Regions from separate parts of the Homo sapiens genome. Here region 2 is reported to be linked to region 1. Evidence: microRNA targets listed by miRTarBase, many of them from high-throughput screens and not tested one by one. Region 1 holds a microRNA gene; the other region holds the end of a gene's coding sequence.

The links. Region 1 holds the annotated microRNA hsa-miR-330-3p (GCAAAGCACACGGCCUGCAGAGA, at 1,163-1,185, shown strand). A microRNA usually pairs through its seed, bases 2 to 8, with sites in the 3' UTR of a target mRNA and lowers its output. Matches are read on the target gene's strand: a 7mer-m8 pairs with bases 2 to 8, a 7mer-A1 pairs with bases 2 to 7 and ends in A, and an 8mer does both.
Region 2: the mRNA of CLTB is a reported target of hsa-miR-330-3p. Seed matches in the 3' UTR shown: 7mer-m8 at 619-625.

The regions. Positions count from the first base shown.
Region 1 is chr19:45,636,910-45,640,193 of GRCh38, reverse strand. It overlaps MIR330 (microRNA 330), which reads left to right and starts at 1,107; the gene lies at 1,107-1,200. It overlaps EML2 (EMAP like 2), which reads left to right and starts at 797. Exons shown (of 19, transcript NM_012155.4): 1 at 797-837; 2 at 1,321-1,349; 3 at 1,560-1,689. The coding sequence starts at 818. RefSeq lists silencers at 503-592, 613-892, 1,589-1,883 and enhancers at 268-1,119, 1,589-1,883, 1,120-1,971.
Region 2 is chr5:176,390,333-176,393,332 of GRCh38, reverse strand. CLTB (clathrin light chain B) reads left to right here. Exons shown (of 6, transcript NM_007097.5): 6 at 388-832. The coding sequence ends at 559. It also overlaps a transcript of ARL10 not described here. Among named protein-coding and RNA genes, the nearest start is that of HIGD2A, 3.1 kb to the right of the region's middle.

The DNA of each region.
Region 1 (3,284 bases):
GTGCAGTGGGCGTGGTCAGCGCTAGGAGGCCACGCAAGGGCAAGACCAAGGTCAAAAGCTGCACATTTCAACTCTGCTCAAACATAGCAAACACAAATACAGCGTTGTGTATACTCCAGGCACTTCCCAATAATTAACCAATTTCACCCTCGCAACTACCCCCGGGAGGTGTGAGTACTCTTATTTATTTATTTATTTTGAGACGGAGTCTTGTTCTCGTTGCCCAGGCTGGAGTGCAATGACACAATCTCAGCTCACTGTAACCTCTGCCTCCCGAGTTCGAATGATTTTCCTGCCTCAGCCTCCCAAGTAGCTGGGATTACAGGCGCCAGCCACCACGCCAGGCTAAGTTTTGTATTTTTAGTAGAGACGGGGTTTCACCACGTTGGCCAGGCTGGTCTTGAACTCCTGACCTCAGGTGATCTGCCCGCCTCGGCCTCCCAAAGTGCTGGGATTACAGGCATGAGCCACCGCGCCCGGCCGGGTACTCTTATTATCCCCATTTTTTAAATGAGGAAACCGAGGCAGAGGTTGGACGACCTGTGTACACTGCTAGGAATTAGCAGAACTGGGGTTTTAACTCAAGCAGGCGCGCTCCCGAGTCCATGTTCTCAACCACTCTCCCCCACCCACCCCGAAAGAACCTGGGATCGGGAGTCCACAGCCCGGGATGTGTGACCCGGTGGGACCCTCCGGCTCCAGGGGTGGCTGTGGAGGGCGGGGCAGGGGCGCGGCGGCCCGGGCGCCTCCCAGGGCCGGAAGCGGCAGAGCCGGTCCCGGCTCCACCCCCGGCCCCGAAGCTCCGCCACCCGCCGCCATGAGTAGCTTTGGAGCTGGGTGAGACCCTTTCGCAGACCACCCCCCATCTCCTCTCCGCGCTCCCGGGGCTTAGATCTCAGGTTTCACCCAACCCCTGGGACCCAGACCGGCGTGGGGACACGCCCCTTCCCTTAAACTCTCCCCGTTTCTCCCTCTGCTTGACGTTTGGTGTGCTGGGGGAACTGCGGGTGGGGGGCGCTGGGGAGCACCTTGCTGATTAGGAGGGAAGGGTCCTTGGTGACTCCCTTCTTCCAGGATCGCGTCCCTGCCACTTCGTGCTGTGTGATCTTTGGCGATCACTGCCTCTCTGGGCCTGTGTCTTAGGCTCTGCAAGATCAACCGAGCAAAGCACACGGCCTGCAGAGAGGCAGCGCTCTGCCCCTTACTCGGCCCCGTTTTCATCGGAGACCTCCGGGGAGCGGTGGGGGTGGAGGAATGGTTTCTCCCCTTTTCTGAACTGAATACTAAGACCCTTTTTTTTTCTTTGTCCTTTCCTGACAGCAAAACCAAAGAAGTTATCTTCAGTGTGGGTGAGTGGGGAGATGGGGAAGGGCTCGGTGGAAGCTTGCTTGTTGGGGTGACAGGCTGGAGCCAGAGGTCAGGAGTCTTGGCTACTGGGTCTTTGCCTCTCTGGCCTCAGTTTCCCTGCCTTTAAAAAAATAAATAAATAAAGCTGGAAGAGGAGAGGGAATAGGGATGGGGCTGGTGTCAGTGCCTGACCTCTGGGGGTGTCCTGGCAGAGGATGGCTCCGTGAAAATGTTCCTGAGGGGCCGCCCTGTGCCCATGATGATCCCAGACGAGCTGGCACCCACCTACAGCCTGGACACACGCTCGGAGCTGCCTTCTTGCCGGCTCAAGCTGGAGTGGGTGTATCCTTTTGCTGGAATCTCCTTGGTGCTCCCATCCCCCCAGGAGGAAATAGAAAGGCGGTCAAGGCAGCTCAGGCCTGTAATCTCAGCACTTTGGGAGGATCGTTTGAGGCCAAGAGTTTGAGACCTGCCTGGGCAACACACAAAACAAGCACAGCACGTTCAAGGGCTATGTGGCCAGAGTGGGATTGGTGCATTTGAGCAAAAAGAGTTGGGAATGGCTGGAAGCCCGGGCTCTGGAGTCTGACAGAGATGGGTTCAAACCCCAGTCCAGCCCGTACCTGGCCGTGTGACCCTGGAAAAGTCGTCTTGACTCTGAAAAATGAATTTTATGATCTCAGGTCCATAGACCTGTGAAATAATGTGTAAAGGTACTGAGCTCATAGTATGTGCCCCATGCACAGGGACTGATAAAACACTAACTCAGCACATTGGGAGGCCGAGGTGGGTGGATCACTTGAACCCAGGAGTTTGAAACCAGCCTGAGCAACATAGCAAGACCTCGTCTTTACAGGAAATAAAATAGCAGGCCGGGCGCGGTGGCTCATGCCTGTAATCTGAGCACTTTGGGAGGCCGAGGTGGGCAGATCACCTGAGGTCAGGAGTTTGAGACCAGCCTGACCAATATGATGAAATCCTGTCTCTACTAAAAATACAAAAATTAGCCGAGTGTGGTGGCATGTGCCTGTAAACCTAGCTACTCGGGAGACTGAGACAGGAGAATCGCTTGAACCCAGGAGGCAGAGGCTGCAGTGAGCCGAGATTGCCCCACTGCTTTCCGGCCTGGGCCACAAGAGTGAAACTCCGTCTCAAAAAAAAAAAAAAAAAAAAAAAAAAGAAAAGAAAAAGAAAAAAAAAATAGCCAGCCATGGTGGCATGCTCCTGTGGTTCCCAGCTACTCTGGAGGCTGAGGTGGGAGCATCACTTGAGCCTGGGAGGTCGAGGTTGCAGTGAGCCATGATTGTGCTATTGCACTCCAGCCTGGGCGACAGAGCGAGACTCCTTTCTCAAAAAAAAAAAAAAAAAAAAAAAAATCCAAAATAATAACTCAAGCACTTACTATCTGACAGACACTGTTGTAAGTTATTCCAGGTATGAATTTATTTTTTTACAACTAGTGGCCTCCAAGAGCTCTGAGGCCTACAGTTTGGAAATTATTATACCTCCTTTCCAGATAAGGAAACTGAGGTTATAGGTAGGAGACAACAATCCTGATTCTGGGACCCAAACTTTTTCCTAAAATCCTATTGAGCTTGGAGTCCACACCCCAGGAACCCGGTCCTTGTCTGCTTCTCTCTGGGCCTTGGTTTCCTCTTTGGAGGAGCCAGGGTGGTTGGTGAAATGGCCTGGCCTTCTGGGTGCCCAGAGCCTTCTCGAGGCAGCTGGAAATATCCCCTGGAATCTGTCCCAAATGTCCTGCCAGTAGGGCTTGATAAGCATCTGATGAGAGGTGGCTGAGACTGCAAAAGTGAGGACCTCAGATTGCTCCCCTTTGCAGTGACTGCAGGTCAGAGCAGTTTCATGGGGTCAGGATATATGTATATTGACAATCATTCAGATATTTTCTTGTTTTTGAGACACCCAGGCTAGAGTGC
Region 2 (3,000 bases), not on the chromosome of region 1:
TCCTAGGACCTCCAAGGGTCTTTAGGTGTCAGGAACCTCAGGTTGGGAACTCCCGATGGGGAAGTAATGAACAGAGGGTGCCTAGGCTGGGAAGACTTTCTGAGGAGGTGAGGCCCGCACTGAGACCTGAATGACAAGAAGCAGCAAGCCAGGAACAGGTCTGGGAGAAGCGTGTTCCAGGAAGAGGTGATAGCAAGTGCCAAGGTCCTGAGGCAGGACCAAGCTAGGCTTCCTCCTGCGCCAAGGCTGCCCTCCTCTGAAGTCAGGGGGGCACAAGGCTGGGGAGGACACAGTGCCCCAGAGTAGGCTGGGCAAAGCAGCCTTGCTCAAGGGCAAGGCTGGGGGAAAGCAGACTGCTATAAAAGCCCGTCCTATCTCCACCCGCAGGGCATCCGAGGAGGCTTTCGTGAAGGAATCCAAGGAGGAGACCCCAGGCACAGAGTGGGAGAAGGTGGCCCAGCTATGTGACTTCAACCCCAAGAGCAGCAAGCAGTGCAAAGATGTGTCCCGCCTGCGCTCGGTGCTCATGTCCCTGAAGCAGACGCCACTGTCCCGCTAGGTGCCTGCTAGGTGCATGGCCACAGAGCATGGGCTGGGCCTGGGCACAGGAGGAGCAGCTGCTTTGGTCGGGGTGGAGACTCGCAGCAGCTGCTACCCACAGCCTATTCCACTCCTCCCCATCTCCAGGCGCTGGGAGGGGGGCCCTCACCCCATCACGCCTCGCTCCCTCCTGGCCCTCTGGTCCAGCCCCTCACGCCTCCTCTCAGTCTACTCAATTGTGACTGTCCCTCCTGATGTATTTTTTTTCTTGGCTTAAAGGGTGTGTTGTTGACTCTTTTTACACTTATTTATTATCATTCTCACTTCTCTGGAAGCCACAACTGGTGTCAGGGCTCGGTTTGTGCTTAGAACTTTCCCAGCTTCATGACCTTGAGAGAAGGGAGAATGTTCCCCCATTTCCCAGCCAAGTGGGAGCCCCAAGCTCTCCATGTCTGTTGCCTCCACCTCCAGGAGGAAAGACAGCCTCTCGCAGAATGCTTTTGTAACCTCGATCCTTTAACAAGTCTGTGAGGTAAATTCTGTTATTCTCACCATATAACCAAGGACACCAAGGTTCCCAGAGGGGAAGTGGCTTGTAGTGGGAGGGAAAAGCGAGACCAGAGGTTCCTGGTGGTAGCTTCCTCCTAAGCCTGGGTAAGAGCCCTGAAGACCCATGAGACTCCCCTCCTTAGGGTTGGCTGGGACCTTCTGGATGTGGAGGGTCCACTGCCCTGTGTATTTCGCTTCCTCCTTCAACTGGGCTCATCTTGGATTTTGGATAAACAACCAGTGATCACACCTTCTTCCCCTTCAGCAGAGTTTGCAAACAGGACGTTCATGACCTGCATGATGTTTAAAAAGATTTGAGTAATTGCCAGTAAATATTAGCTTCCTAGGGCTTCTGTAAGAAGGTACATGAACTAGCTGGCTTAGAACAGAAATTTATTGTCTCATAGTTCTTGAGGCCAGAAATCTGAAATCAAGCTGTGGCAGAGCCATGCTCCCTCTGAAGGAGCTGGGGAAGGGTCTGTTCCACCTGCTTCTGGCTTCTGGTAGCCTCAGGCATCCCTTAGCTGGCAGACGCATCACCCCAATCCTGCCCCCATCAGGTGGCTGTTTGCACATTGCCTTCTAGGTATGTCTGTCTTTGTGGCCAAATCTTCGTTTTCTGTTTTTTTTCTCAAACAGGGTCTCGCTTTATCACTGAGGCTGGAGTGCAGTGGTGCAATCTCAGCTCACTGCAGCCTCAACTTCCTTGGGTCAGGCAATCCTTCCACCTCAGCCTCTCAGGTAGCTGGGACTACAGGCACGTGCCACCACATTTGGCTAATCTTTGTATTTTTAGTAGAGACGGGGCTTTGCCATGTCACCCAGGCTGGGCAAACTCCTGGGCTCAAGCAATTTATCCACTTTGGCCTCCCAAAGTGCTGGGATTACAGGGATGAACCATAGCACCCAGCCTAAGGTCAAATTCTAAGGCACTAGAAGGACTTCAACATTTTTGGAGGGGGACACCATGACACCAACACTTACAAACAGTGGTCATCACTCCATGTCCTTGTCTTGTATCTGGATGCCAAGGGTCACCACAGTGCACTGCTCTACATCTATCATCTCTGCCTCAAAGCTGAGAGAACATGGTGGAGGCAAGCAACTTAGCTGGCCCTAGTACAGCCCTCCACTGAGATCTAGACTGTTGGGGGGTTCAAGAAGGGGTGTGTCTTCACTCCCTTTTTCCTTCTGCCAGCTTGAAGCTGGTGTTGAAAACAGTACAATCACTCGGGAAGAGCGCAGGTCCTCAAATCCAACATTTGAGGAGCGCTGACCACAGACCAGGAATACTTGTTTGAAACTACATGAAGGAGGAACTAACAGGTCACCTCTCTTCTAGAGTGTGCTCAGGTCCTCAGCCTCCTCTTCCAGAACCCTCAAACACTATGTACACAAATCTCTGGAGAGCTTCGGGACTGTGTTCTTCCCACTGTACCAGACTGCTTCTCTGAGCCTGTTTCCTCTTCTATACTGTGTCAAGAACCAGATGGTCTAGGCTGGGCGTGGTGGCTCACGTCTGTAATCCCAGCACTTTGGGAGGCCGAGGTTGGGGGATTACCTGAGGTCAGGAGTTCAAGACCAGCCTGGCCAACATGGTGAAACCATGTTGTTTTAGTATTCTACTAAAAATACGAAATACAAAAATTAGCCGGGCGTGGTGGCACACACCTGTAATCCCAGCTACTCGGGAGGCTGAGGCAGGAAAATTGCTTGAGCCCGGGAGGCGGAGGTTGCAGTGAGCCGAGATTCTGCCACTGCACTCCAGCCTGGCTGACACAGTGAGACTCGTCTCAAAAAAAGAACTAGATGGTCTAGATCAGTGGAGCCCCATAGACTCTAGGGAGGTGGGAGCAGGGTGAGGAGGTTATGCGGAGTGGAGGGCAGAACCCTCTGCCTCTGACCCGACTA